5 linked regions of the Homo sapiens genome follow. The protein of the gene in region 3 purifies or fractionates together with the protein of the main gene of each other region. This does not show direct contact. Each region holds a gene or a part of one and is shown on either strand. Other genes may lie near its edges.

Region 1 (6,465 bases), on a different chromosome or scaffold from region 3:
AGTCACTAATTACCAGCAACCAGGAAAGATCAAGGCAATATTGTTGCATTCCCAGATCCTCAGAAGAAGTGAATCTTGTTTTTTTTTTTTTTTTTTGGGTGGGGGGATGGAGTCTCGCTGTGTCGCCCAGGCTGGAGTGCAGTAGCGCAATCTCGGCTCACTGCAAACTCTGCTTCCCAGGTTCATGCCGTTCTCCTGCCTCGGCCTCCTGAGTAGCTGGTACTACAGGCACCCGCCACCACGCCCAGCTAATTTTTTGTATTTTTAGTAGAGACGGGGTTTCCCTGTGTTAGCCAGGATGGTCTCCATCTGCTGACCTCATGATCCACCTGCCTTGGCCTCCCAAAGTGCTGGGGTTACACGCGTTTGCCACTGCGCCTGGCCTCTTGTTAATTTTTTTAAAGGTGTGGAAGAATGTTTTGAAAGTGACCCTGAGGAGCAAGAAAAGTGCCACCTCCTTTTCTTTAAAATTGTGGGACAGGAAGCTAAAACACTTGGACTACCGAAAGTGTTACTCTCAGGGGAAATCAAGATTCTGTTAAAGTTAAGAAAATAGAAAGTATTTGTAACAAGATTCAGAATATAAGAGTTAATCATGGACCAGAAAGTGCAGAGAAAGGATTAGGGGCAAAGAAAGATGTTGGCTATGATGGGAGAGAAAATTTACCAGAGTATGGGATGAGAATACTAAAGAAATAGATAATAGAGGGGCTTGCATTTTGGTAAGATAATAGAAAGATGAGGAAGGAATGTTGCAAGAAACAATCTCATAGTTGTAAATGGAGCACGATGTCATATTTGAACAAAATTAGCCTTGTAGTGGTACACAGAACGGCAGTTTGCAAGAACAATTGTTGTGAATTAAATGTAAGGGTATGATGGGTCATTATTGTCTTGCTAGAGAAGACATCAAAGGATTGAACTATTTATTGTTTCCAAACAGCGATTAAAGTGAAGAAACAATGGCCAGCAATCACAAATCTTCAGCAGCTCGCCCTGTTTCAAGAGGTGGAGTTGGGTTAACAGGAAGGCCTCCTTCTGGGATACGACCCCTATCAGGAAATATTCGAGTGGCAACTGCAGTAAGTTTGAAACAAATCTATTTACTTTGGGAGGCCAAGGTGGGAGGACCACTTGAGTCCAGGAGACTGGGGCTTCAGTGAACTCTGATCATGCCACTGCACCCCAGTTTTTGAGTTTTTGAGACTGTCTCAAAAATCTGTTGAATGCTTGTGCATATATTGTGGTAGAAGTTGGAAATCCCCTCTGTAATAAGAGATTCTACTTTGTTGTTTCTTTATTTCATAAGCATATTATTAAACATGTTTGTTTTGTTTTTTGGAAAGCATCTGGAAATGTAAATGTGGAAGAGTGTTTGAAAGACACTCTGGGAAGAAGATGCCTGCTCCTGCAGATACTCAATTTAAAGCTGCAATAATTTTAGTTGAATAGTGTATTGGGGCCAGAATAAAATGAAATGGAATAGACCTCAAATAGAATCAAGCATATAAGAATTTAGTTAATGATTAATGTGTGTTTCAAATTAGTTGGCAAAACATGGAGCATTCAATAGAACATTCCAATAATTGTTAAACCATTTGTTTAAAAGTATTTTTAATCCTCTCTTATACCTTTTATCAGAATTCTACATAGCTTAGAAACTTGGTATTTCAAAAATGAAACCATAAATGTAGTAGAGGAAAATGTTGGCAAGTATTCTGTATAAACTTGATATGGGCTAGGCTTTCTAAACATGACAGAAATAACAAGTACTGAAAAGGAAAATATTTTTATTATATATCTGAATTTACAAAAAATAAAACACCATAAAAAATTAGAAATGACAACTGGTAAAAACATTTATAATATATATACCATATATAGGATCAGAATCTTAAAATTAAAAGGTAAACTTTACTAATTTTTTTTTTTTTCTTTTTTTCTTTTTTTTATTTTTATTTTTTTGTTATACTTTAAGTTTTAGGGTACATGTGCACATTGTGCAGGTTAGTTACATATGTATACATGTGCCATGCTGGTGTGCTGCACCCACTAACTCGTCATCTAGCATTAGGTGTATCTCCCGATGCTATCCCTCCTCTCTCCCCGCACCCCACAACAGTCCCCAGAGTGTGATATTCCCCTTCCTGTGTCCATGTGATCTCATTGTTCAATTCCCACCTATGAGTGAGAATATGCGGTGTTTGGTTTTTTGTTCTTGCGGTAGTTTACTGAGAATGATGATTTCCAATTTCATCCATGTCCCTACAAAGGACATGAACTCATCATTTTTTATGATTGCATGGTATTCCATGGTGTATATGTGCCACATTTTCTTAATCCAGTCTATCATTGTTGGACATTTGGGTTGGTTCCAAGTCTTTGCTATTGTGAATAATGCCGCAATAAACATACGTGTGCATGTGTCTTTATAGCAGCATGATTTATAGTCCTTTGGGTATATACCCAGTAATGGGATGGCTGGGTCAAATGGTATTTCCAGTTCTAGATCCCTGAGGAATCGCCACACTGACTTCCACAATGGTTGAACTAGTTTACAGTCCCACCAACAGTGTAAAAGTGTTCCTATTTCTCCACATCCTCTCCAGCACCTGTTGTTTCCTGACTTTTTAATGATCGCCATTCTAACTGGTGTGAGATGGTGTCTCATTGTGGTTTTGACTTGCATTTCTCTGATGGCCAGTGATGATGAGCATTGTTTCATGTGTTTTTTGGCTGCATAAATGTCTTCTTTTGGGAAGTGTCGGTTGATGTCTTTCGCCCACTTTTTGATGGGGTTGTTTGTTTTTTTCTTGTAAATTTGTTGGAGTTCATTGTAGATAGATTCTGGATATTAGCCCTTTGTCAGATGAGTAGGTTGCGAAAATGTTCTCCCATTTTGTAGGTTGCGTGTTCACTCTGATGGTAGTTTCTTTTGCTGTGCAGAAGCTCTTTAGTTTAATGAGATCCCATTTGTCAATTTTGGCTTTTGTTGCCATTGCTTTTGGTGTTTTAGACATGAAGTCCTTGCCCATGCCTATGTCCTGAATGGTAATGCCTAGGTTTTCTTCTAGGGTTTTTATGGTTTTAGGTCTAACGTTTAAGTCTTTAATCCATCTTGAATTGATTTTTGTATAAGGTGTAAGGAAGGGATCCAGTTTCAGCTTTCTACATATGGCTAGCCAGTTTTCCCAGCACCATTTATTAAATAGGGAATCCTTTCCCCATTGCTTGTTTTTCTCAGGTTTGTCAAAGATCAGATAGTTGTAGATATACGGCGTTATTTCTGAGGGCTCTGTTCTGTTCCATTGATCTATATCTCTGTTTTGGTACCAGTACCATGCTGTTTTGGTTACTGTAGCCTTGTAGTATAGTTTGAAGTCAGGTAGTGTGATGCCTCCAGCTTTGTTCTTTTGGCTTAGTATTGACTTGGCGATGCGGGCTCTTTTTTGGTTCCATATGAACTTTAAAGTAGTTTTTTCCAATTCTGTGAAGAAAGTCATTGGTAGCTTGATGGGGATGGCATTGAATCTATAAATTACCTTGGGCAGTATGGCCATTTTCATGATATTGATTCTTCCTACCCGTGAGCATGGAATGTTCTTCCATTTGTTGTAAACTTTACTAATTTTTAAGTGCTCTTTCTGTATTAAGACCACAAGCCTTATGTCCAATCAAAATTTCATGACATTTCTTTTGATGCTAGGGGTAATATTATAAAACTATTCTAAAACTCATCTAGAACAATACCACAAAAATAAGAAAAAGTACAGTACTCTAATGTAAAATATGTTATAGACAATGAGTGAAACAATATTCTGATTGCCACGGCACCTGGAGGTAAACTCTAGTAAATGTTAAAGAGCTTAATATAAGAGAGTGTGTCATAAATAGTGAATAAGAGAAACACATCATATGAGGAAAAGTTAGATGAAGTTTATGAGTTGATATTCTAAGCAGAAGGATATCCTGTAAAGATAATTATTACATTTTCGTTATCATTATAATGTAAAAATTGGGAAACAACCTAGAAGACTTACAACAGGTGAATCTTAAATAATGATATGTATATCCCTATAAAGGCTGTTAGATAGTCATTACAAACTACTTTCAAGATATTTCAGAAAATAATATACTTTAACAAAAGTTTAAAAGTGATATCAATTTAACATAGAAAACATAAATTTATAAATACATAGAATTGAAATGGAAATAAATGAATAGACAAAAATGTCCATAAATTTATCTGATTTTCACACAGGTGATTTCAACTGAGAAGGTGCAGAGGGCCAATACTCAACCTCCTACAGTAGGCTAAGTGCAAACTACAGATAATGTTGGGTCCTATGGTTAACTCATAAGAAGAGCAGCATTTTTTGGAGGGAATAATTTTGTTAAAGTCAGATTTTCCTAAAGTTTTCAGATTTTTTTTCTAGAGTTTCAGGTAATAATATTAGGACATCGTCATCAACTTAGACTGAAATAATTTTTCTGAAGTCTTCATACATAGGATAGTAAGGGTATCTTTTTCTTTTATTCCAGTAAAAATTGATAATTAAATATTTATAAAAAGAATCTGACATTTATTGGCCACCTACTATTTGCCAGGCACGTTATCTGTTTATTTGTAAAATTTTAAAATTTGTATGTATTCATGGGGTAGGTCAGTTGTCTTACATGCATATATTATGTAATGATGAAGTGTGGGCTTTTAGTGTACCCATCACCTGAATAGTGAACACTGTACCCAATATGTAATTTAGCAACCCTCACCTTCCTCCCACTCATCTTTTGTAATCTTTAGTGTCTGTTATCTCACTCTGTATGTCCGTATGTACCCATTGTTTAGCTCCCACTTATAAGTGAGAACATGCGGTATTTGACTTTCTCTTTCTGAATTGTTTCACTTAGGATCATGGCCTCTGGTTCCAACCATATTGCTGCAAAAGACATGATTTCTTTATTATGGCAGAGTAGTGTTTCATAGTATGTGTATATATATATATGTGTATATGTGTGTGTGTATATATATGTATATACATGTATACCACATTTTCTTTACGTAGCCCTCCATCTCCATTGATGGACAGTCAGGTTTTTTTTTCATATATTCGCTATTGTGGCAAGTAGTGTGATAAACATAGGAATGCAGGTATCTTTTTGAAATAATGATTTCTTTCCTTTTGCAGTGGGATTGCTGGATCATATGATAGTTCTATTTTTAGTTTTTTGAGGAACTTCCATACTGTTCTCCATAGTAGTTATACTAACTTACATTCCCCCCAACACTGTACAAAGGTTCCCTTTTCTTTATATATTTGTCAGCATTTGCTATTGCCTTTCTTTTGGATAAAAGTCGTTTTAACTGGAGTGAGATGATATCTCACTGTAGTTTTGATTTGCATTTCTCTGATGATCAGTGATGTTGAGCACCTTTTCGTATACCTGTTTGACGTTTGTATATCTTCTTTTGAGAAGTTGTCTATTCAGACCTTTTGCCCGTTTTTTATTGTATTATTAGATTTTTTTGCTAGTGAGTTGTTGGAGCACCTTATATATTCTGTTTATTAATTTCTTGTCAGATGAATAGTTTTCATATATTTTCTCCTATTATGTTGGTTGTCCCTTCACTTTGTTGATTGTTTGCTGTGCAGGTGCTTTTTAACTTGATGTGATTCTATTTGTTCATTTTTGCTTTGGTTTCCTTTGCTTGTGGGATATTACTCAAGAAATCTTTGCTTAGACCAATGTTCTGGATAATTTCCCCTGTGTTTTCTTTTAGTAGTTTCATAGTTTGAGGTCTTAAGTCTTTAATCCATTTTGATTTGATTCTTGTATATGGTGAGAGATATGGGTCTAGTTTCATTCTTTTGTCTATGGATATCCAGTTCTCCCAGTACCATTTATTGAAGAAACTGGCATTTCCTCAGTGTATGTTCCTTGCATCTTTGTCAAAAATGTGTTCACTCTAGATATATGGATTTATTTCTGGGTTCTCTATTCTGTTTTTATGCCAGTATGCTTTTCTTTTTCTTTTCCTTTTTTTTTTAATTCAGGATGGGTTTGGCTATCCTAGATCTTTTATGGTTCTATATAAATTTTAGGATTTTTTTTTCTATTTTTGAGAAGAATGTCATTGATATTTTGACAAGGATTGCATTGAATTTGTAGATTAATTTGGATATTCTGGATATTTTGACAATGTTGATTCTTCCAATCCATGAACATGGAATATCTTTCTATTTTTTGTTGTTCTCTTCAGTTCATTGCATCAGTGTTTTATAGTTTTCATTGTAGAGATCTTTCACTTCTTGGGTTAATTCCTAGGTATTTTATTTTATTTGTAGCTATTGTAAATGGGATAACTTTCTTGATTTTTTTCATGTTGTTCCCTGTTAGCATATAGAAATGCTATTGATTTTTGTATCCTGCAATTTTTCTGAGTTTTACTGAATTTACTATTTA
Region 2 (6,465 bases), on a different chromosome or scaffold from region 3:
TTGGTATGGTTCAGCGACTCACACCTATAATCATACTCCTTTGGGAGGCCAAGGTAAGAGGATCACTTGAGCCCAGGAGTTTGAGACCAGCCTGGGCAACATAGCAAGAATCTATCTCTACAAAAAATAAAAAATTATTTGGGAGGCCAAGGCGGGTGGATCACAAGGTCAGGAGAGCGAGACCATCCTGGCTAACATGGTGAAACCCTGTCTCTACTAAAAAAATATAAAAAATTAGCCGGGCATGGTGGCGGGTGCCTGTAGTCCCAGCTACTTAGGAGGCTGAGGCAGGAGAATGGCATGAACCCGGGAGGCAGAGCTTGCAGTGAGCTGAGATCACGCCACTGCACTCCAGCCTGGGCGACAGAGTGAGACTCCATCTCAAAATAAACACATACATACATACATACAATAAAATAAAATAAAATAAATAAAATAAAATAAAATAAAATAAAATAAATAAAATAAAATAAAATATAAAATAAAATAAAATAAAATAAAATAAAATAAAATAAAAAATAAAAAATTAGCTGGGCATGGTGGTACATGCCGATAGTCCTAGCTGTCCAGGAGCCTGAGGCAGGAAGATCACTTGAGCCCAAGAGTTTGAGGTTAAAGTGAGCTATGATTGTGCCACTGCACTCCAGCCTAGGTGACAGAGTAAGACTTTGTCTCAATAAATAAATAAGTAGCACATATTTAAAATGTATTAAATTTTTTTTTTTAATTTTACTTTAAGTTTTGGGTTACATGTGCTGAATATGCAGGTTTGCTACATAAGTATACATGTGCCATGGTGGTTTGCTGCACCTATCAACCTGTCATCTAGGTTTTAAGCTCCGCACACATTAAGTATTTGTCTGAATGCTCTTCCCCTTTCCTCCCATGCCCTAAAGTGTATCCTTGATTACTTTTGACATACGCATACACTGGTGAAACCATCAGCTTTTAATCAAGATCACAAACCTATCCATCACCCCAGACATTTCCACTGACCCTTTTTAATGTCTCACTCTTGCCCCCTTCTGCCTTTCTGTCCCTCCCCAGGCAACCATGGATTTGCTTTCTGTCACTATAAATCAGTTTATATTTGCTAGAATTAGAAACTTTTTTTTAAATAGAGAAAATATTATTTGAGAATTTTAAATCTTTAAAAACATTTTAGTCTTTGATTCCATGCATCTCTAATTACATGGGGTACACTTAAGAACCTGAGGATGGAAAAGCTGGTCATCTAACAGACAAAGAAGTCAGGATGTAGATTTAATCGAAAACCACATAGGAATGACTGACTAATTACAGTGTGATTTATTTATTTTTATTGTTTATTTACTTATTTATTTATTTTTTGAGATGGAGTTTCACTCCTGTTGCCCAGGCTGGAGTGCAATGGCGTGATCTTGGCTCACTGCAACCTCCGCCTCCCAGGTTCAAGCCATTCTCCTGCCTCAGCCTCCCAAGTAGCTGGGATTACAGGCATATGCCACCACGCCCGGCTAATTTTGTATATTTTTTTAGTAGAGACGGGGTTTCTCCATGTTGGTCAAGCTGGTCTCAAACTCCTGACCTCAGGTGATCCGCCCGCCTCAGCCTCCCAAAGTGCTGGGATTACAGGCATGAGCCACCACGCCTGGCCTATTTTTTATTTTCTGAGACGGAGTTTTGCTCTTGTTGCCCAGGCTAGAGTGCAATGGCATGATCTTGGCTCACCGCAACCTCTGCCTCCCGGGTTCAAACGAATCTCCTACCTCAAGCATCTCTACAGCCTCCAGAGTAGCTGGGATTACAGGCATGGGTCACCATGCCCGGCTAATTTTTTGTATATTTAGTAGAGATGGGGTTTCTCCATGTTGGTCAGGCTGGTCTCAAACTCCCAACCTCAGGTGATTCGCCTGCCTTGGCCTCTCAAAGTGCTGGGATTACAGGTGTGAGACACCACGCCCAGCCTACAGTGTGATTTATTAAACACTTTCTCTTCTCTTCCTTTCTCTAATCCTGAAAAAAGAAGGAATAGTGAAGTAATGAATGGAAAACTTAGAATTTGCAGTTAATAAAATTTTACATGTTAATATATGGTTAGCACGATGGAACTAAAAATAGTTTTAAGGCTTTGGGCCAGATGTATTATGCTTTGGGCCAGATGTATTATGCAATCTATTACACAGATTACTTAAACCAGAAAGCCCATGTGTTAAAAATTTGAGCCAGGCCAGACGAAGTGGCTCACGCATGTAATCCCAGCACTTTGGGAGGCCCAGGCAGGCGGATCACTTGAGGTCAGGAGTTGCAGACCAGCCTGGCCTTAACATGGTGAAACCCTGTCTCTACTAAAAATACAAAAAATTAGCCGAGCTGGTAGTGTGCGACTAATTCCAGCTACTCAGGAGGCTGAGGCAGGAGAATCGCTTGAACCCAGGAGGCAGACAGAGGATGCAGTGAACCCAGAATGCACCACTGCACTCCAGCCTGAGTGACAGAGCAAGATTTCATCTAAAACAAAAAACAAAAAACATTCAAGTCAGAATTTGTAAATGTGTAAATGGAAAGATATGAAATAAACTTTGTAAATCTCTCTAGGCTGGGAATTTAAAACAAGATGGTTATTCACTGAAAATCTGTGTGTATAGTTGTCCAACTGCAAAAATAAGAAAACTAAAATCTTAAAAATATAAATTGCCACTTAACTGTAAACTAATAATACTTTACAAAATAAAAAATACCAAAACATGGAAAACTTAAAACATTTATGTGTAGGTAGATACTTTGTTTCTTTTTTCTTTTGTTTTTTTGAGACAGAGTCTCCCTCTATCCCCCAGGCTGGAGTGCAGTGATGGTGACACGATCTTGGCTCAGTGCATCCTCTTCCTCCCAGGTTCAAGCGATCCTTGTTCCTCAGCCTCCCAAGTAGCTGAGACTACAGGCATGTGCCACCATGCCCGGCTAATTTTTGTATTGTTAGTAGAGACAGGGTTTTGCCATGTTGCCCAGGCTGCTCTCGAACTCTAGACCTAGGTGATCCACCCACCTCGGCCTCCCAAAGTGCTGGAATTACAGGCGTGAGCCACTGCACCTGGCCTGTTACTCTTTTTTAGATTTTAACTTGTGGTGCTTTTAGTAATGTCTTCATTGGCTTGAAGCTGACAAATGATAATGAATTATCATTTATGAACTGTTATAATAGAAATATAAATTGTTCTGGGTACAGTGTAATCCCAGAACTTTGAGAGGCTGGGATCACACCTGTAATCCCAGCACTTTGAGAGGCTGAGGCAGGTGACTGCTCAAGCCCAGGAGTTAGAGACCAGCCTGGGCAACATGGCAAAACCTCGTCTCTACAAAAAAAAATACAAAAATTACCTAGGCGTGGTGATGTACACCTGTGATGCCAGCTACTTCCAGCTACTCAGGAGGCTAAGGTGGGAGGATCACTTGAGCTGTGAAGGTTTAGGTTGCAGTGAGCTGAGATAGTGCCACTACACTCTAGCCTGGGTGACAGAGCAAGACCCTATCTCAAAAAAATAAAAAATACATATGTATATATATAGCATTAAAAGTATTCCAAAAGAAAAAAAATACATGATCATCTGTATAAAAGAGCACCTGGGTTAGATTTTATTTGTGTTATCATTTGGTTCATGGGTCTCTTAAATGCTTAGAAGGTAAAATATGACCCAACAATGTATCTGGCTCAGCACATGTTATTTTTGCGTATTGCGGGATATAAAAGAATTAGGTTATAATTTGAAAGGGTCATAATAGCACTTTTTCTATAATTATTTAAATATTCTTCCATGTAAATTATGTTTCTTCATTTTCATTGTAATTAACAATAAAATATTTCAATGGCCAATCTTTTATTGTACTATGCTATATATTATACAGTTTGTTTTCAACAAATATGCCGTATCCAGGTCTTATATTTAAAATAGTATACAGAATATCACTGTACCTACTCTTTTGGGCTGAATATTTATTTATTTTATTTTTAAAGGTTTAATGAAGAGGCTAGAGGAGGAGATAAAATTTAATTTATATATGGTAACTGAAAAATTTCCTAAAGAATTAGAAAATAAGAAAAAGGAATTACATTTTTTACAAAAAGTAGTTTCAGAGCCAGCTATGGGCCATTCTGATCTTCTTGAACTTGAATCTAAAGTAAGTGAGAATCATCTTTTTATAGCTCTCAATTTTATCTGATCCCCAGTCCTATAAAATTATGTGAACTGCTTTCTGTAGTATCCCACTATTGACTCTTAAATTAACCTGTGCTAAGAGTTGACAACTCTTATGAGGAATTGTCCTTTATGAGGAATTATAGAATGTTATGCTATTACTTAATCCACATGATGTTATGAAAACATAATCAATTGATTAGCAAATGAAGTAACTTAAATATGTAAATTAATGCATATGAATTGACCAGTGGGTTTATGTCTTCATAATGTAAGCATTTAGATGGGAAATTTGGAAATATTTTAATTGTCATTAATTTTTATTTCCAAGCAAAATATTATAGCAATTTTATATTTAAAGCTAATATTTTTATTAACCTTGTATACCTGCCTTGGAATTACTAAATATTGTAATGCTTATTGAAAGCTGGTATCAGGTTATACCTTTTTTTTTTTTTTTTTTTTTGAGACAGTACTTGCTCTGTTGCCCAGGCTAGAGTACAGTGGCACAATCTTCTCAGCTCACTGCAACCTCTGCCTCCTGGGTTCAAGTGATTATCCAGCCTCAGCCTCCCAACTAGCTGGGATTACAGGCACGAACCACCATGCCCGGCTAATTTTTTGTTGTTGTTGTTGTTTTTGTTGTTGTTGTTTTGTTTTTTGTTTTTTTTTGAGACAGAGTCTCGTTCTGTTGCCCAGGCTGGAGTGCAGTAGCGTGATCTCGGCTCACTACAACCTCCGCTTCCCGAGTTCAAGCGATTCTCCTGCCTCAGCCTCCTGAGTAGCTGGGATTACAGGCACGCGCCACCACGCCTGGCTAATTTTTGTATTTGTAGTAGAGACAGGGTTTCACCGTGTTGGTCATGCTGGTCTCAAACTCCTGACCTTGTGATCCACCCATCTCAGCCTCCCAAAGTGCTGGGATTACAGGCATGAGCCACCGCACCAGGACTTGTTTTGTTTTTTGAGACGGAGTCTTGCTCTGTTGCCTAGACTGGAGTGCAGTGGTGAGATCTCAGCTCCCTGCAACCTCTGCCTCCCGGGTTCAAGCCATTCTCCTGCCTCAGCCTCCCAAGTAGCTGGGACTACAGATATGTGCCACCATGCCTGGCCAATTTTTTTATTTTTAGTAGAGACGGGGTTTTGCCATTTGTCCAGGCTGGTCTTGAACTCCTGACCTCAGGTGATCTGCCCGCCTCAGCCTCCCAAAGTGCTGGGATTACAGGTGTGAGCCACTGTGCTTGGCCTGATTATACCATTTTTGTTCCCTAGAATTAAAATGCTAGGTCAGGTGCAGTGCCTTTTTTTTTTTTTTTTTTTTTTTGACGGAACTTGCTCTGTTGCCCAGGCTGGAGTGCAGTGGCACAATCTCAGCTCACTGCAACCTCCACCTTCTGGGTTCAAGCGATTCTTCTACCTCAGCCTCTCGACTAGCTGGGATTACAGGCGCACACCACTATGCCTAATTTTTTTTTTTTTTTTTTTTTTTACACGGAGTCTCACACTGTCACCTAGGCTGGAGTTCAGTGACATGATCACAGCTCACTGCAGCCTCCATCTCCCAGGCTCAAGTGATCCTCCACCTGAGCTTCCCAAGTAGCTGGGACTACAAGGTGCATGCCACCAGTTCTGGCCAATTTTTGAATTTTTTGTACAGACAGGGTCTGGCCATGTTGCCCAGCATGGTCTTGACCTCCCAGATTCAAGAGATCTGCCTGCCTCCGTCCACCTCAGTCTCCCAAAGTGCAGGGATTACAGGTGTGAGCCATTGCACTCAGCCTAATTGAAATGTTTTGACTTGCTAATTCTTTAGTGTGCTTACTATGTGGTTAATAGCCACTACAATTAAATACATAATTCTGACTGTTTTGGTTTTTTTTGTTTTTTTTTTTTTGAGATGGAGTGTAGCTCTGTTGCCCAGGCTGGAGTACAGTGGCGTGATCCCGGCTCACTGCAACCTCTGCCTCCTGGATTCAAGTGAATTCTGCCTCAGCCTCCCCAGTAGCTGGAATTACAGGCACCTGCCACCATGCCCAGCTAATTTTTGTATTTTTAGTAGAGATGGGGTTTCACTGTGTTGGCCAGGCTAGTCTCTAACTCCTGACCTTGTGATCCACCCACCTCAGCCTCCCAAAGTGCTGGGATTACAGGTGTGAGCCACCGCGCCCAGGCCTGACTGTTTTATTCTTTTAATTTACTTAGAAAAATTAAATGTCCAAGTCAGATCTGGCTAAAATTTTGTTTTGTTTTGTTTTGTTTTGTTTTTGAGATGGAGTCTCACTCTGTCACCCAG
Region 3 (5,473 bases):
TTTAGAACCCTGAGCCGGTGTAAGATCGCCAAGGTGGTCGATATAGACAGAGAGAAGACTCCGGTGCTCTCTCTACAAAAACAACACAGAAGGGGTGGCCAGGGAGGTGGGTAGAAAACGGGAGAGGGGAGTCCTGGAAGCCACAGTGTGGGAGAAGGAAGGGAGGAAGGGCTAGGTGTGTGTCGGGGTAGGGTGTTGAGGCTCCTGCTTTCGCTCCCCTCCTTGCGGCAGGCCCTGGAGCACCTAGACCACCGGCTGAGGGAGAAGGTGAAGCAGCAGAACGCCCTGCGGCACCAGGTGGTGTTGCGGCAGAGGCGGCTGGAGGAGCTCCAGCTGCAGCACAGCCTGCGCCTTCTGGAGATGGCGGAGGCGCAAAACAGACACACGGAGGTGGCCAAGGTAGGGGCGGGTGAGGCCTGCAGGGCAGAGGGTCGTGTGGGAGGGATTGAGTGCGGAGGGCCCTCAGCCCAGCCCTGCTGCTCTCCAGACCATGCGGAACCTGGAGAACCGCCTGGAGAAGGCCCAGATGAAGGCGCAGGAGGCCGAGCACATTACCAGCGTGTACCTGCAGCTCAAGGCCTATCTAATGGTAGGGACTAGGAGGGCTCGGGTGAGATGACAAACAGGGAGGGCGGGCTTGGCTAGGGACAGCAGTCACAGACCTGCACCATCTCCGCTACCCCTCCCCACCACGCCCCAGGACGAGAGCCTCAACTTGGAGAACCGGCTGGACTCCATGGAGGCTGAGGTGGTGAGGACCAAACATGAGCTGGAGGCACTGCACGTGGTGAACCAAGAGGCCCTCAATGCCCGGGACATTGCCAAGGTGCCACCCCTCTTGCCCTCGGCCATCCTGCCCAGCTGCCGCGGTCTCCCAGCTTGAGAATCTGACCTCAGCTGTCCCTGAGCTTCCCCTACGCCCCCGCCCCCATCTATCTCCCAGCACCCTGCGGCGGGCAGTGGTAGGTGCCAGCTGGTCTCCCTGCTACCCTGCCCGCCCTCCAGAACCAGCTGCAGTACCTAGAGGAGACCTTGGTTCGAGAGCGCAAGAAGCGGGAACGCTACATAAGTGAGTGCAAGAAGCGCGCCGAGGAGAAGAAACTGGAGAACGAGCGCATGGAGCGCAAGGTGGGCGCACCCAGGGGTGCGCGCCTGTGACTCCAGCCCAGCCCAGCACAAACCAGCCATGCCCTGGCTCTCCCTCATCCTAGGCCTTCTCCCATTTTCTGTTTCTCCTAACCCCGCCCCCTCTCTGACTCCACCCCCACTTGGTGCGAAGACCCCTCCCACATCCCTGACCCCGCCTCTCCTCCCCTCCCCTCCTAAGCGACTGCACCATTTTGGCTCTGACATGGCCTCCAGCCTTCCCCTTACTCAGTGACCCCCCTACCCATCCTTTCCCACCTGACTAGACTGCCTGTCCTGAATCTGACCGTGCCTCTGAGCCAACCGTTGCCTAAGGCCCTGCCCCCTCACTCTTGGCCCCGCCCCTGCACCTGCCCTGAGGCTGCCTCCCATCCAGCCCTCACCAAAGCCCTGTCCTGCCTTTTTGTTTTTTGGGTTGTTGTTGTTGTAGTTGTTGTTTGATAGGTTTTTTTTGCATATATATATATATATATACGTATATACATATATATACATATATGCATATATGCATATATACACACACATATATACACATATACATACATATATACATACATACACACATATATACATATATACATACATACACACATATATACATATATACATATATACACACATATATACATATATACATATATACACACATATATACATATATACACACACATATATGTATATATACATATACACATATGTGTATATACACATATATGTATATATACATATACACATATGTACATACACACATATATACACATATGTACATATACACATATATACATATATACACATATGTACATATACACATATGTACACATACACATATATACACATATGTACATATACACACATATACACATATGTACATATACATATATACACATATGTACATATACACACATATATACACATATGTACACATACACATATGTATATATACACATATGTACATATACACATATGTATATATACATATGTACATATACACATATACACATATGTACATATACACATATATACATATATACACATATGTACATATACACATATACATATATACACATATACACATATATACACATATGTATATATGCACATATGTATATATACACATATATACATATACACATATGTACATATACACATATATACATATATACACATATGTACATATACACATATATACATATATACACATAGGTACATATACACATATATACATATATACACATAGGTATATATACACATATATACATATATACACATAGGTATATATACACATATATACATATATACACATAGGTATATATACACATATATACATATATACACATAGGTATATATACACATATATACATATATACACATAGGTATATATACACATATATACATATATACACATAGGTATATATACACATATATACATATATACACATAGGTATATATACACATATATACATATATACACATAGGTATATATACACATATATACATATATACACATAGGTATATATACACATATATATTTATACACATAGGTATATATACACATATATACATATATACACATAGGTATATATACACATATATACATATATACATATATATACATATATACATATATATATGGATTTTTTTTTGAGACACGGTCTCTGTCGCTCAGACTAATTATAGCTCACTGCAGTCTCGACCTCCTGGGCTCAAGTGATCCTCTCACCTCAGCCTCCCAAGTAGCTGGGACTTCAGGCGCCCCACCACGCCCTGCTAATTTTGGTGTTTTTTGTAGAGACGGGGTCTCGCCGTGTTGTCCAAGCTGGTCCCGAACCCCTGGGCTCAAACAATCCTCCCGCCTCAGCCTCCTAAAGTACTGGAATTAAAGGCGTGAGCCACAGCCACCGCCCCCGCGCCCGACCTTGTCCCACTTTCTTGACACCTGCCCGGGTGCCTTTATCTGGCCCCAAGCTTTTGCCCTCTCCCTTCCCTCCAGTTTGAGCCCTGTTCCTCGCGGGCCCCTATCTGGATCCCCCTCCCCGGCCTCCTTCCCAAGCGCTGTCCACCAGCTGACCCTGGCTCTGACCTCAACCCACGAGCAGACCCACCGCGAGCACCTGCTGCTACAGTCCGACGACACCATCCAGGACAGCCTGCATGCCAAGGAGGAGGAGCTGCGGCAGCGCTGGAGCATGTACCAGATGGAGGTGATCTTTGGCAAGGTCAAGGACGCCACTGGCACTGACGAGACGCACGTGAGTTCTGCCCGCAGCCCTCTCCGCCGCGCCCCCCCCCCACCCCAGACGGGCCCCAGGGGTGCCTAAGCCGGTGAAACCGACACACCCTGTCTCCCCTCTCTGCCAGGTCGGTTATTCAGCTCACAAACCTGCTCCTTTCTTGAAAAACATCCCTTCCCCCTCCAGCTACCGTTCAGTTTTTCTGCTGCCCTTCGCAGCAAAACCCCTAGGAGCTGTCTACACTCGCCGTCATTTCTACACTCGCCTTCCGTTCTCTCTTGCACCATGCTAACTCCTTTGCCATGCCAGCTCTAGGAGAACTGGGAGTTTCGTCTCTTGTTCTGTCTCCAGTGTCTGTAACATGGTCTGGGACCCAGTGGACCGCCCAGTACCATCCTCAGATCCTGGCAAGTGGGGTCCCTGCGCCGGGTCCCTCACTGTAAAGTCTTCCTTGCATTATTCTAAGACCGCTGTGTCCCCCTTGGGTCCTGGTTCCCGCCGGTGAACACTGGACCCCAACCCTGTTTCTCCCCTCTGGGTGTCCGCCAACCTGCTGCTCCTCCGATGGGGCCGACCCCTGATGACTTCCGGGACTCCCACCTATAGGAGTACACCTATGGGGTCATCTGGGGCACTGAGGCGCAGCCCCTTTCCAGATGTGGGCCTTGTGAGCGGATGGCTCCGAAGACGGGCGGTATTTCCTGCGGAATCGGGCGAGATTCACGGCCAGAAATTGATGGCACTTTGATTTTGGAAAGAAGCTATGCTCGCCTCTCCAGTTGCCCCCGAGTTTGGGCTGACTCAAATTCCTTATATAGGCCAGAAAGGGCCCCGCAAAAATGATATATCCAGGGCTGCTCACCCTTGAAGCAACCCTGCGTCCAACCCACAGTGTCCCCATACATTGCTGTGCAAAAGGCGCCAGCTCAGGCCACCTGTCCTGCGTGCGAGGGTTCGCAGGGTGGGGGAGAGGAGGTGGAGCGCCCCTACGCTCCCTAGGCCCTGGCTCTGACTGGGGCTGGGTGGCCCGCAGTCGTTGGTGCGGCGGTTCCTGGCCCAGGGCGACACCTTCGCGCAGTTGGAGACGCTCAAGAGCGAGAACGAGCAGACGTTGGTGAGGCTGAAGCAGGAGAAGCAACAACTGCAGCGGGAGCTGGAAGACCTCAAGTACTCGGGGGAGGCCACGCTGGTGAGGTGAGGCACCGGGGCTCTGGGGAGGGCGGCGGGGCGGGCTGAGCCCCCGGGGTGACCTCCCGGCTCCCTGCAGCCAGCAGAAACTGCAAGCCGAGGCGCAGGAGCGTCTCAAGAAGGAGGAGCGGCGGCACGCCGAGGCCAAGGACCAGCTGGAGCGCGCCTTGCGGGCGATGCAAGTGGCCAAGGACAGCCTGGAGCACCTGGCCAGCAAGCTGATCCACATCACTGTGGTAGGCCCCGCCCAGGGGAAGCCCCGACAGGCCCTCCTGGGACCGCAGAGGCGCAGCCACGAAGCGGGGTTCCTGCCACACCAGCTTGCCCGAGGGAACGTGGCCTGCCACATCCTCTGTCCCGGACGTCAGAGGCCCCGCCCACAGGGGAAGCCCCACCCCATTCCTCAGAGTCCCCGCCCCACCTCCCTGGGGAAGCTCTCACTCCCCAAGGAAGCCCAAGACGTCAGAGACCCTGTCCCGTCTCAAGCTCCGCCTCCAAGGGAAAGAAGTCCCACCCTGTCCCCGAAAAGCTCGGAGACCTATCTGCAGTTCTGGAGCAGCCCGAGACAGAAGACCTATCCTGCCCGCAGCAGAGGGCCATTTCTTCAGGAGGCCATCCCACAATGGCCTCCCTCGAATCCTTACTGTTCCCAAGAGGCCTCCCCGAAACCTTTACATATAGAGTTAGAGTTCAGAGGCTCCCCCATCACAGACGTGGCCTTGACCTAAGTCCCCGCCCCCAATGGCTAGGATCGACCCTGCAGGTGGGCCCTTACCTCCTAGGCCCCGCCCCCGAAAGAAAAGCCCCGCCCCTGGGTGGAGCCTTCCAAGAGGCCCCACCCCTCTCGGCTGACCCGGCTCTACCCTGGCCGCAGGAGGACGGCCGCTTCGCGGGAAAGGAGCTGGATC
Region 4 (6,465 bases), on a different chromosome or scaffold from region 3:
CGAAACAACGCCATCCTGCGGGCGCTGTCCCCCGAGGGTGCTCTCCGCCGTGCTGCCCCTGCCGCCCAGGCAGAACCTGAGCGCCTGCTCTTCCACCCCAACTGTGGGCAGAAGGCAGCCATCACCCACGAGGGACGCACTGCCCTGAGGCCCCAGTATGGCCCATGGGGTGGGGAGAAGCCTGAAGAAGGGATTCTAATGGGGGGGGGGGGGCGGGGCAAGGAAGTGGAAGGCAGAGGGAGCCTGGCGGGGGCAGCTTCCTGGAGGTTGAGCTTTAGTTCTTTGGCTTGGGGCAGTGAGTGTTGGCAGGCATTGCTGGGCTAAGCCTTGGCACATTGAGAGCGTGTGTTGGGGATCTGACTCTCCACTTGCTGTGCCCTCAGTGCCACCGATGACTTCAATCACGGCGTGGTGCTGAGCAGCAGAGCCCTGCGGGATGGAGAGGTGTTCCAGGTGCGCATCGACAAGATGGTGGACAAATGGGCTGGCTCCATTGAAATTGGTGTCACCACCCACAACCCTGCCTACCTCCAGTTGCCCTCCACCATGACCAACTTGCGCTCTGGTGAGCTCCCAGGAAGGGCAGGGACAGGATAGGGTTTTGGGGGGAAGCTATCCCCAAAGCCCTGGCACTTGTTCTGCAGCTCCTTTTTCACTTGTCACTCTTGTGACCACTCATTCAGTGGCTAGAGAGTGTCCCGTGGGCAGGGCTGTGGCTGTCTTGGAAGCTGCAGAGTTTTCTTGTCCTGCTCAGGGAAGAAATCTAGTCATCAAAGAAAAGGCAAGGTGGACTGTGGGCTCGGGAGTCCTGTGGGCGCTGCTGTGGCAAGGAGAGGAGCCCTGCATTTCCCCTCATGTCCCCTCCTGCTCCTTGTCCTCCCAGGGACCTGGATGATGACTGGGAATGGGGTGATGCACAATGGGACGACCATCCTGGATGAATACGGGCACAATCTGGACCGCCTCAAGGTGGGAAAGTGGGTGCGCCGCCTGGCGGCCGCAGCGGGCATCACAAACACCGCGGGGCTGATGCAGGACCAGCCCCGGCAGGAACTCTGCCTGACTCCTCACTCCAGCACCCCCTTCTTCCAAGGCAGGGGACACGGTGGGCGTGGTACGGCGGGAGGACGGGACTCTCCACTTCTTTGTCAATGGGATGACTCAGGGCCCTGCTGCCTGGAACGTGCCCCCGGGCGTCTATGCTGTCGTCGATCTCTATGGCCAGGCGGCCCAGGCCACCATTGTGGACGACGTGGGTGAGGGCCGGGCTGGGCTGGGGCTGGGGGTTAGGGTGGCCTTGGGAGGTCTGAGAGACACCTAGAGACCTGATGGGTGATGTCCACTTTTACAGAGGTGGCTCCAGTTCCTGAACCACTCCCTGAGGGGAACAACCAGGTGTCTCCAAGCTCTCCGTCCTCAGGGGCCGGGGGCTCTGACCTGCGCTTCCATCAGCTGCACGGCAGTAACGCAGTCATCACTAACGGGGGCCGCACCGCCCTCCGCCACAACTGTCGCAGCGAGTTTAATGACGCCATCGTCATCTCCAACCGGTCAGTCTCTCAACTTTCATGTCCCCACCTTCCTCCTGCCCAGCCTCAGCCATGCAAGTAGAGCCTCTCTGATCGCCAGTCTCCTGGCAGGGCCCTGCGGGATGGAGAGCTGTTTGAAATTGTCATTCAGAAGATGGTGGACCGCTGGTCAGGCTCCATTGAGGCTGGTGAGGGCCGTCTGTGTGTGTTGGGGGCTGTTGGATGTCTGTGCCTTGGGGATCGGCCTTGACTTACCCCTGCCTCCTCCCAGGAGTGACTGCTATTCGGCCTGAAGACCTGGAATTCCCCAACACCATGACAGACATTGACTATGACACATGGATGCTGAGGTTGGGCTTCCTGCTTTGGGGACCAGCTTGGGGCTGAGTGGAGCTGGCTGGGATCAGGGAAGCAAGGTTTGGGCCTATGGTGGCTGTGGGTAGTGACAGACCTAGGGGATCTACCTGTCCCCTCCCCTTGAATTCTGGGAAGTCCTGCCCAGGCCCACAGGGGCTCAGTCCTCCTTCATCTTAGGCAGTTCTTGCTTTTTCCTAAGGGGATCCCAGGGACAGAGGAGATAGGATTGGGCCTTACACCCAGATCAAGACACCAGCCCAAGACATTGGAGGGTTCTGACAGACAGGGAGTGGGCAGGGGCCAATGTGAAGTTGAAGTTGGCAGGCTGACTCACCCCTTCTGCCATCCCCCCAGTGGTACAGCCATCATGCAAGACGGTAACACGATGCGCAACAATTATGGGTGTGACCTGGATGCGCTGGGCACAGGTGCACGCATTGGCATGATGCGAACTGCCAAGGGCGACCTGCACTACTTCATCAACGGCCAGGACCAAGGCGCTGCCTGCTCGGGCCTGCCTCCGGGTAAAGGTGACTATGTGGCTTTCAGCCTGCCACCCTCAGCCCAGACCACCTGGCTGTCAGGCTTCTGACCTTCCCTCTCCTCCCCAGAGGTGTATGCGGTAGTCGATCTCTATGGCCAGTGTGTCCAAGTGTCCATCACCAATGCCACCGGCCCCATGGACAACAGCCTGGCGACCAGCAACACTGCCACCGAGAAGTCCTTCCCACTGCACTCCCCAGGTGCGGCAGCAGGGCGGGGGCTGGACGGGCTCTGCTTGCCTGCTGTGCACCTGAGGAGTAGGGTTTCCAGGTTAGAGAGGTTCTGCAAAGACGGTTGGCTGGGGTAGCTGCCGGCTCCAGGGAAGGGACAGCCCACGGTGGCAAGCAGCCAGTGAGGGGGAGGTTACACCTGGTACTTAGAGCCTGGACACTTCCCTGCCACCAAGGGGCCAGGACACCATAAGCTGAGCATGCCAGGTTTGGAAATGGGCCTTGCTGTGGTGAAAAGAGGTATCAGGGCCGGGCGCAGTAGCTCACGCCTGTAATCCCAGCACTTTGGGAGTTCAAGGCAGGTGGATCTCTCGAGCACAAGAGTTTGAGACCAGCCTGGGAAACATGGCGAAACCCCGTCTGTACCAAAAATACAAAATGTAGGCAGGTGTGGTGGCATGCACCTGTGGTCCCAGCTACTTGAGAGGCTGAGGTGGGAGGATAGCTGGATCCCAGGAAGTCGAGGCTGCAGTGAGCCACGACTGTGCCCCTGCACTCCAGCCTGAGTGACAGAGCGAGACTCTGCCTCAACAAAATACAATAAAGAGGTGTCAGGAGGCCCTGAGGTGTAATGGCAGATGGCAGATGGGGCGTTGGCATCCCCATTTCGTTTCATCTGAAAGCTTTGCTCTGTGTTCTGCCTGAAGCTCGCTGCCCCAATCCTACCCCTTCTACTGGTGCCATCTCTTCACAGTGGCTGGCGTGGCTCACCGATTCCACAGTACTTGCGGCAAGAACGTCACTCTAGAGGAGGATGGCACGAGGGCAGTGCGTGCCGCTGGCTATGCTCATGGCCTTGTCTTCAGTACCAAGGAGCTGAGGGCTGAGGAAGTCTTTGAGGTAGGCCGTAGTGATGTGACAGAGGGGCTGCGAGGCCCATCACGACAGGGCCAGCTTATGTTTTCTCTGTCTCGTAGGTGAAAGTGGAAGAGCTAGATGAGAAGTGGGCAGGTTCCCTGCGGCTGGGGCTGACCACACTAGCACCGGGGGAGATGGGACCCGGGGCAGGCGGTGGTGGCCCAGGGCTGCCTCCTTCCCTGCCAGAGCTCCGGACGAAGACCACTTGGATGGTATCCAGCTGTGAAGTGAGGCGTGATGGGCAGCTCCAGAGGATGAACTATGGCCGGAACCTAGAGAGGCTGGGGGTGAAGTGGCTGGCTCCAGGGACAGGGGAGGGGTTGGGAGTGGAGGTGGCAGGGAGAGGTGGGCTGAACATCGTCCGTCCTTGTCCTACCTCGGTCCTAGGTGGGGAGCCGTGTGGGTGTTCGTCGGGGGGCAGATGACACGATGCACATCCTGGTGGATGGAGAGGATATGGGGCCTGCAGCCACTGGCATTGCCAAGGTAGACCTGAACGCTTCCTTGGGTTCTGGGAGGATGGTTGAGGTCTTCTGCTGATCTCTGATTTTCTGGGTCTTGTGTGCCTCCCAGAACGTGTGGGCTGTGTTGGATCTCTACGGGCCAGTCCGCGGTGTGTCAATTGTCAGTTCCACGAGACTGGAGGAGTCAGAAGGCACCCAGCCTCCTTCCCCCAGTTCAGACACCGGCAGTGAGGGCGAGGAGGATGACGAGGGCGAGGAGCATGGCCTGGGAGTAAGAGGCTGCAGCATGGTCTGCTGTGCACATGGATGGGCAGTTGCTGGGCCGTTGGATGCCAGGCCTTTTCTGGGTTCTCTGATCGTTGGGTGGAGGCTCACACTCAGGATCTGTGCAAACTCCAGTGGGGTGGGTCAGTCCTGGCATTGGCAACCCATGCAGCTCAGTCCCTTCCTCCACACCAGGGCCAGAATGAAGTGGGTATTATACCCACCACCCTCGAGTTCCTGGAGAACCATGGGAAGAATATCCTTTTGTCTAATGGGAACCGTACGGCCACACGGGTGGCCAGCTACAATCAGGGCATCGTTGTCATCAACCAACCTCTGGTGCCCCAGCTGCTGGTGCAGGTGGGTTCTCCCTCCCTATCCCCAGCTTCTCTCGCTCCACAGTGACCCATGGCCAACCCCCCTGAAAAAAGGCCTTTTTGTGTGGAGAAAAAGAAAGCAAGCCACTTGGATGAGCTTCCTAGGCTTTTATTCATAGCCTGTAATGAGGGTCATCAGTCAGTTACCACGAAGTCCCTACCTGGTGATTGGTGAGGGAAGCAGTAGGGACAGGCTGGAGGAGTCCAAGAGAAATGCCTGATCCTATATGTGGGAGCAGAGAGGGCTTTCCAGAAGAAGGTGCCTTTTTGCTACAAACTGAAAGATATGTGAAAGTTAGCCAGCTGAGCCCGGGTGCGGTGGCTCATACCTGTAATCCCAGAACTTTTGGAGGCCAAGGCAGGCGGATCGCTTGAGCTCACGAGTTCGCGACCAGCCTAGGCAATATAGTGAAACTCTGTCTCTACAAAAAAAATACAAAAATTCTCCAGGCATGGTGGCACGAGCCTGTAATCCCAGCTACTCGGGAGGCTGAGGTGGGAGGATCACTTGAACCTGGGAGGCAGAGGTTACAGTAAGCCGAGATCACGCCACCGCACTCTAGCCTGGGAGATAGAGCAAGACCTTGTATCTTAAAAAAAAAAAGAAAAAAAGGCCAGGCTCAGTGGCTCATGCCTGTAATCGCAACACTTTGGAAGGCCGAGGCGGGCAGATCACGAGATCAGGAGATCAAGACCATCCTGGCTAACACGGTGAAACCCCGTCTCTACTAAAAAATACAAAAAATTAGCCGGGCGTGGTGGCGGGCGCCTGTAGTCCCAGCTACTCGGGAGGCTGAGGCAGGAGAATGGCTTGAACCCAGGAGGCGGAGCTTGCAGTGAGCCGAGATCGCACCGCTGCACTCCAGCCTGGGCAACAGAGCGAGACTCCGTCTCAATAAAAAAAAAGAAAGGAAAAGAAAACTAGCTAGGTGAAGGAAGTCCTAGGAATAAGAATCCTTAGAGATCCTTACAGAGGCAACAGCAAGGTCAAGGCTCAAACAGCATGTTTTTTTTTTGTTTTTTTGTTTTTTTGTTTTTTTTGAGACGGAGTTTAGCTCTTGTCGCCCAGGCTAGAGTGCAATGGTATGATCTCGGCTCACCGCAACCTCCACCTCCCGGGTTCAAGCGATTCTTCTGCCTCAGCCTCCCAAGTAGCTGGGACTACAGGCATATGACACTACGCCCGGCTAATTTTGTATTTTTAGTAGAGACGGAGTTTCACCATGTTGGTCAGGCTGGTCTCAAACTCCTGACCTCAGGTGATCCACCCACCTCAGCCTCCCAAAGTGCTGGGATTACAGTGTGGGTCACCATGCCCGGCTGGCGGTTCTTTTTTTTAAAAAAAAAAAAAAAAAAAAAAAAAAAAAGAGGGAAAGAAACAACTAAATTAGCGTTTTCTGGTCCTTCCAAGCATAAGAAAAGGCAGCATCCCAGGCCACATTCTGGGAGGTGCAGTATTCCCTCTCTGGCTGGGGTGCGGAGCCTGGTTCTTCCCAGGAGGCTGTGATTATGGAGTAGTTCTTTCTTCCCCAGGTGCGGATAGATTTCCTAAACCGACAGTGGACATCTTCCCTTGTCCTGGGAGTCATCACCTGCGCGCCTGAGAGGCTCAACTTCCCTGCTTCTGCCTGTGCCCTCAAACGGGCAGCCTGGCTGCTGCGGGGCCGTGGGGTCTTCCACAACGGTCTCAAGGTGAGTAGGAGCCAGAGAGAAGGAACAGGACCAGGCCTGTGAGTAGAGAAGGGCTGGCCAGAAGGGAGAAGTGGGCCCCTAGCCTTGGAGGTAGGACCACAGGTGTAAAAGGGGAACAGTAATGGGCAGGCAAGGGCGAGTAGCATTGCCT
Region 5 (6,465 bases), on a different chromosome or scaffold from region 3:
GTTCAAGACCAACCTGGGCAACATAGCAAGACCTCGTCTCTACAAAATTTTATTTTTTTTTTGAGACAGAGTCTTGCTCTATCGCCCAGGCTGGAGTGCAGTGGCGTGATCTCGGCTCACTGCAAGCTCCGCCTCCTGGGTTCACGCCATTCTCCTGCCTCAGCCTCCTGAGTAGCTGGGACTACAGGTGCCCGCCACCACGCCCAGCTAATTTTTTTTGTATTTTTAATAGAGACGAGGTTTCACCGTGTTAGCCAGGATGGTCTCGATCTCCTGACCTCGTGATCCGCTCGCCTCGGCCTCCCAAAGTGCTGGGATTACAGGCGTGAGCCACTGCACCCGGCCGCCCAAAAATTTTTTAAAAATTAGCTGAGCATGCTGGTGTGTGCCCATAGTCCCGGCTGCTCGGGAGGCTGAGGCAGGAGAATCACTTGAGCTCAGGAGTTTGAGACTGCAATGAGCTATGATCGGGTCACTGCACTCCAACCTGGTCAACAGAGTGAGACCCTGTCTCAAAAATAAATTAATTAAATTTAAAAAATAATAATAACACTGCTAAAAACACTTCTATAATTTTTTTTTTCTGGTGCAAACTATTTTCATGTCAGATATTTAAATCTCTTTTTTTTTTTGAGACAGAGTCTTGCTTTGTCACCCAGGCTGGAGTGCAGTGGTGCGATCTTGGCTCACTGCAACCTCTGCCTTCCAGGTTCAAGTGATTCTTCTGCCTCAGCCTCCTGAGTAGCTGCGACTACAGGTGTGCACCACCACACCTGGCTAATTTTTGTATTTTCAGTAGAGATAGGGTTTCAACCATGTTGGCCAGGCTGGTCTTGAACTCCTGACCTCAGGTGATCCGCCTGCCTCGGCCTCCAAAAGTGCTGGGATTACAGGTGTGAGCCACCACGCCCAGCCCTAAAATCTCTTGTTCTACCTTTTCTTGTCATCCTTTCATTAAAAAAAAGGAAAACCATTTATGCTACATTTTAACATCAAAAAAATATTATGTTTTGGATTTTCTGCACCTCTGTCCTTCAGAGTCAGAGATAATTGAGAGTTAAGTACAATCAACCTTAAAGTTGCCTTGCAAGCCACCAGGAAAGGCAGATATTGGAGAGGCAGAAGCTAGCTTCAGGATCATGTCCCTATAGTCAGTAACACACCAGCACCTAGGACCCTGCCACCTCTGCTCTTCTCTGGCCACCTCGAACAAACTGTTTTCCTTTTCCCAGGGCCTATGACCCTGCAGACTATGAGCATTTGCCAGTTTCTGCTGAAATTAAGGAACTCTTCCAGTACATCAGTAGGTGAGTACTAGGACCTCCCACCATACCCCACTATCCCTACCTTGCCCCAAACCTTTCCTATCTCTAGTCTGAAACAGGGCCATTCCCCTTAGATTTTTTTTTAGCCTGAATAGTAAAGTAACTTTTTCTGACTGTCTCCACCTTCCCTTGGCAATATCTCCTAGGTACACACCTCAGTTGATTGACCTGGACCACAAACTGAAGCCTTTCATTCCTGATTTTATCCCAGCTGTCGGGGATATTGATGCATTCTTAAAGGTATAGTCAGTACATCCTGAAAATGACTCCTTAAGTGTTTCTTCTGATGCCCCTGTTACTCTTAACAGTTTCCCTAATTTCTTTGACTAGCATTGGCTAGTCATGTTCATTTCATTGGAGTTCTTAACCTTGCTCTCAACTCCAAATTACACTCATTGCTCTTAAGTAATACTTAATATCTCATTACACATTAACAGTTTGTCATGTATTTGCTTCCTAATTATCTATGACAACAGGTTCATATTTAAGCTGCTATGGATAATATTTTTTTTCTGGATAGTATTGCGTACAGCATGATAAGCATGCTTTTAATACTAGTAATAATGATGAACCAGAAGTGTTCTTCCTCTTAACTTATTGGAAACATTTTCCTTTCTGCTTTCTTACCTTTTTCTTAACCAGGTCCCACGTCCTGATGGAAAGCCTGACAACCTTGGCCTATTGGTATTGGATGAACCTTCTACAAAGCAGTCAGACCCTACGGTGCTCTCACTCTGGTTAACAGAGAATTCTAAGCAGCACAACATCACAGTAAGATACTAGCTTAGTATAGGCCCCAGCTGGAGAGGGCCAAGAGTGGAGGAGGCCTTGCTGGCACTCATACAGTTGACTTACTGCCTGTCAAAAGAGATGGGCCTGGGTGCGGTGGCTCACGCCTGTAATCCCAGCACTTTGGGAGGCCGAGGCGGGTGGATCATGAGGTCAGGAGATCGAGACCATCCTGGCTTAACATGGTGAAACCCCGTCTCTACTAAAAATACAAAAAAAAAAATTAGCAGGGTGTAGTGGCGGGCGCCTGTAGTCCCAGCTACTCAGGAGGCTGAGACAGGAGAATGGTGTGAACCCGGGAGGCGGAGCTTGCAGTGAGTCGAGATCATGCCACTGCACTCCAGCCTGGGCAACAGAGCTAGACTCCATCTCAAAAAAAAAAAAAAAAGAGATGGTTATTGCTTTGGGCCAGCTCTATTTTTAAATGACAGCTTTATTTATATATAACTTAAATACCAGCAAGTTTAGCCTTTTAAATTGTACAACTTATTAGTTTTAATATAATCACAGTTTTGTAGCCATCACCACTACCTAATTTAGAATATTTCATCACCTCAAAAAGAAACTTCATACCCATTACTATTCACTCCTCATTCTCCCACTTCCTCCTAGACCCTGGTAATTATTTCATTCCTTTGTTATGGCTGAATAATATCCACTGTATGGATTTACCAGATTTGCTTTATTCATTCTCTAGTTCTGTCCACTCTTATTAATAATGGTGCTTTGAATATTTGTATACAAGTTTTTGTGTAGGTATATATTGTTATTCTGTTGGGTATATACATAGGAGTAGAATTGCTGGGCCATATGGAAACTCTATGTTTAGCCATTTGAAGAACTACCAAACTGTTTTCCAAAGTGGCTGTACCATTTTACATTCCCACCAGCAATGAATGAGAGTTCCAGTTTCTCTACATCCTCATCAATACTTTTTGTTTGTATTTTTCATTCTAACCATCCTAGTAGGTGTGAAATGGTATTTCTTTTTTTTTTTTTTTGAGACAGTTTTACTCTTGTTGCCCAGGCTGGAGTGCAATGGCGTGATCTTGGCTCACCACAACCTCCACCTCCCGGGTTCAAGCGATTTTCCTGCCTCAGCCTCCCGAGTAGCTGGGATTACAGGCATGCACCACCACGCCCAGCTGATTTTGTATTTTTAGTAGAGTCAGGGTTTCTCCATGTTGGTCAGGCTGGTCTCGAACTCCTGACCTCAGGTGATCCACCCACCTCGGCCTCCCAAAGTGCTGGGATTATAGGTGTGAGCCACCAAGCCCAGCCTAAATGGTATTTCATTATGGTCAGTCCTGCCATTTTGACCTGCTGCCTTTCCATGGCTTCAGCAAATTATTTTTTTTTGAGACAGGGTCTCGCTCTGTTACCCAGGCTGGAGTGCAGTGGTGTGATTGGGGCTCACTGTAGCCTCGATCTGCAAGCAATCCTGCTACCTCAGCCTCCCAAGTAGCCGGGACAGACCACAGGTGTGTGCCATCATGCCTGGCTAGGTTTTTTTTTTTTTTAATTTTTATTTTATAGAGGTAGGGTCTCCCTATGTTGTCTAGGCTGACCTCAAGTGATCCTCCTGCCTCAGCCTCCCAAAGTGCTAGGACTGCAGGTGTGAGCCACTGCACTTGGCTTTTTTTTTTTTTAAAGACAGGATCTCGCTCTTGCCTAGGCTGGAGTGCAGTGGCACAGTCGTAGCTCACTGCAACCTCAAACGCCTGGGCTCAAGTGATCCTCTTGCCTCAGCCTCTCAAGTAGCTGAGACCACAGGCACACACCACCATGCCTGGCTAATTTTTAAATTTTTAGTACAGACAAGGTCTCACTATGTTGCCCAGGCTGGTCTTGAACTCCTAGCCTCAACTGATCCTCCCACCTCAGACTGCCAAAGTGCTAGGATTACAAGTGTGACCGCCATGCCTGGCCTGGCTGCAGCAGATTTTATCAGGGTTTTCTATCCCCTTCATTTGGCTACTGTTTCACGTGGCAGCAGCTGTCATCAGCAAGCTCGAATATGAAACAGCAGCAGATATAATGAGACACTGTAAAAACAAGAGAGCTACTTCAGTGCCATCAGCTAGGCTTTCTCCTTACTTTCCTAGCAACATATGAAAGTAAAAAGCCTAGAAGATGCAGAAAAGAATCCCAAAGCCATTGACACGTGGATTGAGAGCATCTCTGAATTACACCGTTCTAAGCCCCCTGCGACTGTGCACTACACCAGGTAAGAAATACCACATTCTTTGCAACAGTAACACATAGTAACCTTCACTACCTGTGAACTGTTGCTCCTGAGAAGAGGCCCAGAGGCTGGGAACATATTTGATCAACCTGAGGTCCTGTGGATCCTGGCAACTACTGGCTGAGATTGTAGACATAAAGATTGTAATTTCTCTAGTATTACTTAGCTACCTCCTCCAAACCCCAGGCCCTGGGTAACTTTGGTATGCCCAGTCTAGGTTCTCCTGAAGCCTTCCTGATGTGCCAGATTGAAGACCTCTCCTTCATCCTAGAATATGCTGATCCAGAGGTTGCTGATGTTATCAGTTCACGTTTCTTGTTCATATTTACCTTTATACTTTTAGGCCCATGCCCGACATTGACACGCTGATGCAGGAATGGTCCCCGGAGTTTGAAGAGCTTTTGGGCAAGGTGAGTGGAAGGTAGCAGGAGGTAGGGTAAGAAAGTACAGTATTCGCTCCAGGGCCCAGTGTTTTTTCTCTTCCTCCATTATTATTATTGGTAACTTTTTTTTTTTTTTTTTTTTGAGACAGGGTCTTGCTCTTCCCAGGCTGCAGTGCAGTGGCATGATCATGGCTCACTGCAGCCTCTACCTCCCGGGCTCAAGTGACCCTCCCACCTCAGCCTTACCAGTAGCTGGGACCACAGGCATGCACCACCACACTCAGCCATTTTTTTAATTTTTGGTAGAGACGAGGTCTTGCTTTGTTGCCCAGGCTGTTCTCAAACTCCTGGGCTCAAGCAGTCCTCCTTCCTCAGCCTCCCAAAGTGCTGGGATTACAGGCATGAGCCACTCCACCCAGCGATCATTAATTTTTTTTGTTGAGATGGAGTCTCTCTCTGTCGCCCAGGCTGGAGTGCAGTGGCATGATCTCAGCTCACGGCAACCTCCACCTCCCAATTCAAGTGATTCTCCTGCCTCAGCCTCTCGAGTAGCTGGGATTACAGGTGCCTGCCACCATGCCACCATGCTAATTTTTGTATTTTAGTAGAGAAAGGGTTTCACCATGTTGGCCAGGCTGGTCTCGAATTCCTGACCTCAAGTGATCCGTCTGCCTTGGCCTCCCAAAGTGCTAGGATTTCATTAACTTTTTAATGGTAACACAGGAAACCCATGTATATGTGGTAATTTGATATATAAGAAAGATAGTTTTTTTTTTTTTTTTTTGAGGCAGTCTCACTCTGTTGCCCAAGCTGGAGTGCAGTGGCATGATCTTGGCTCACTGCAACCTCCGTACCCCCCGCAGGTTCAAGCAATTCTCCTGCCTCAGCCTCCCAAGTAGCTGGGATTACAGGCATCTGCCACTGTGCCTGGCTAATTTTTGTATTTTTAGTAGAGACGGGGTTTCACCATCTTGGCCAGGCTGGTCTTGAACTCCTGACCTCGTGATCCACCCGCCTCTGCCTCCCAAAGTGCTGGGATTATAGGCGTGAGCCACCGCGCCTGGCCAAGAAAGATAGTTTTTTAAATGATTGGTGATAGAATTAGGGTATAATGAGACAATTATTTGAAAAAAATTAAAGTAGGTTTCTGCCTCAACTGTATACATATGTGAATTTCAGATGAATTAAAGAGTTAATGTGGGCCGGGCACAGTGGCTCATGCCTGTAGTCCTATAATTTTGGGAGGCTGAGGCGTGAAGATTGCTTGAGCTCAGGACCAGCGTGGGCAGCATAAGGAAACTCTGTTTCCAAAAATAAACAAATAAATAAAAGAAGGGAAAAAAAGAGTTATTGTAAAAATAAAGCCATGTAAGTAATATAATAAAATATAGGAGATACAGAAGGAGCATGACTGAAAAAATAAATGAAATAAAATATAGGAGAAATTTAATTATCTCTTTTTAAAAAATTCAAGTGTCTTATAACTTAGGGAAATTTAATTCTATTAGGATAGTTAGGTGTTTCTCAGTGTAATAAGAAACTTAAAAGTCATATTGAGGCCGGGTGCAGTGGCTTAGGCCAGGCGCGGTGGCTCACACCTGTAATCCCAGCACTTTGGGAGGCCGAGGCAGGTAGATCACCTGAGGTCAAGAGTTTGAGACCAGCCTGGCCAACATGGCGAAACCCCATCTCTACTAAAAAAATACAAAAATTAGCTGGGTGT

Evidence for each region.
Region 1: the proteins of ODAD3 (region 3) and IFT74 purify together in Homo sapiens (affinity purification with mass spectrometry; 3 studies listed by BioGRID and IntAct, with this or other methods). This does not show direct contact.
Region 2: the proteins of ODAD3 (region 3) and IFT81 purify together in Homo sapiens (affinity purification with mass spectrometry; 3 studies listed by BioGRID and IntAct, with this or other methods). This does not show direct contact.
Region 4: the proteins of ODAD3 (region 3) and NEURL4 purify together in Homo sapiens (affinity purification with mass spectrometry, with the first as the bait; one large-scale study listed by BioGRID). This does not show direct contact.
Region 5: the proteins of ODAD3 (region 3) and IFT46 purify together in Homo sapiens (affinity purification with mass spectrometry; 3 studies listed by BioGRID and IntAct, with this or other methods). This does not show direct contact.

What each region holds. Positions count from the first base shown.
Region 1 is NC_000009.12:26,961,006-26,967,470, forward strand, and holds part of IFT74 (intraflagellar transport protein 74 homolog), read left to right. Parts: intron 1-943; 5' UTR 944-962; coding exon 963-1,082; intron 1,083-6,465. UniProt on the Homo sapiens protein: Component of the intraflagellar transport (IFT) complex B: together with IFT81, forms a tubulin-binding module that specifically mediates transport of tubulin within the cilium. Binds beta-tubulin via its basic region. Required for ciliogenesis.
Region 2 is NC_000012.12:110,139,391-110,145,855, forward strand, and holds part of IFT81 (intraflagellar transport protein 81 homolog), read left to right. Parts: intron 1-3,991; coding exon 3,992-4,155; intron 4,156-6,465. UniProt on the Homo sapiens protein: Component of the intraflagellar transport (IFT) complex B: together with IFT74, forms a tubulin-binding module that specifically mediates transport of tubulin within the cilium. Binds tubulin via its CH (calponin-homology)-like region.
Region 3 is NC_000019.10:11,421,799-11,427,271, reverse strand, and holds part of ODAD3 (outer dynein arm-docking complex subunit 3), read left to right. Parts: intron 1-231; coding exon 232-399; intron 400-487; coding exon 488-589; intron 590-700; coding exon 701-826; intron 827-1,005; coding exon 1,006-1,128; intron 1,129-3,242; coding exon 3,243-3,395; intron 3,396-4,410; coding exon 4,411-4,571; intron 4,572-4,644; coding exon 4,645-4,801; intron 4,802-5,439; coding exon 5,440-5,473. UniProt on the Homo sapiens protein: Component of the outer dynein arm-docking complex (ODA-DC) that mediates outer dynein arms (ODA) binding onto the doublet microtubule. Involved in mediating assembly of both ODAs and their axonemal docking complex onto ciliary microtubules.
Region 4 is NC_000017.11:7,318,899-7,325,363, reverse strand, and holds part of NEURL4 (neuralized-like protein 4), read left to right. Parts: coding exon 1-155; intron 156-383; coding exon 384-565; intron 566-883; coding exon 884-969; intron 970-1,093; coding exon 1,094-1,256; intron 1,257-1,351; coding exon 1,352-1,550; intron 1,551-1,640; coding exon 1,641-1,717; intron 1,718-1,800; coding exon 1,801-1,879; intron 1,880-2,240; coding exon 2,241-2,416; intron 2,417-2,497; coding exon 2,498-2,629; intron 2,630-3,353; coding exon 3,354-3,499; intron 3,500-3,576; coding exon 3,577-3,804; intron 3,805-3,904; coding exon 3,905-4,003; intron 4,004-4,090; coding exon 4,091-4,252; intron 4,253-4,440; coding exon 4,441-4,605; intron 4,606-6,155; coding exon 6,156-6,314; intron 6,315-6,465. UniProt on the Homo sapiens protein: Promotes CCP110 ubiquitination and proteasome-dependent degradation. By counteracting accumulation of CP110, maintains normal centriolar homeostasis and preventing formation of ectopic microtubular organizing centers.
Region 5 is NC_000011.10:118,550,090-118,556,554, reverse strand, and holds part of IFT46 (intraflagellar transport protein 46 homolog), read left to right. Parts: intron 1-1,232; coding exon 1,233-1,307; intron 1,308-1,471; coding exon 1,472-1,565; intron 1,566-1,967; coding exon 1,968-2,096; intron 2,097-4,219; coding exon 4,220-4,341; intron 4,342-4,702; coding exon 4,703-4,769; intron 4,770-6,465. UniProt on the Homo sapiens protein: Forms part of a complex involved in intraflagellar transport (IFT), the bi-directional movement of particles required for the assembly, maintenance and functioning of primary cilia. May play a role in chondrocyte maturation and skeletogenesis.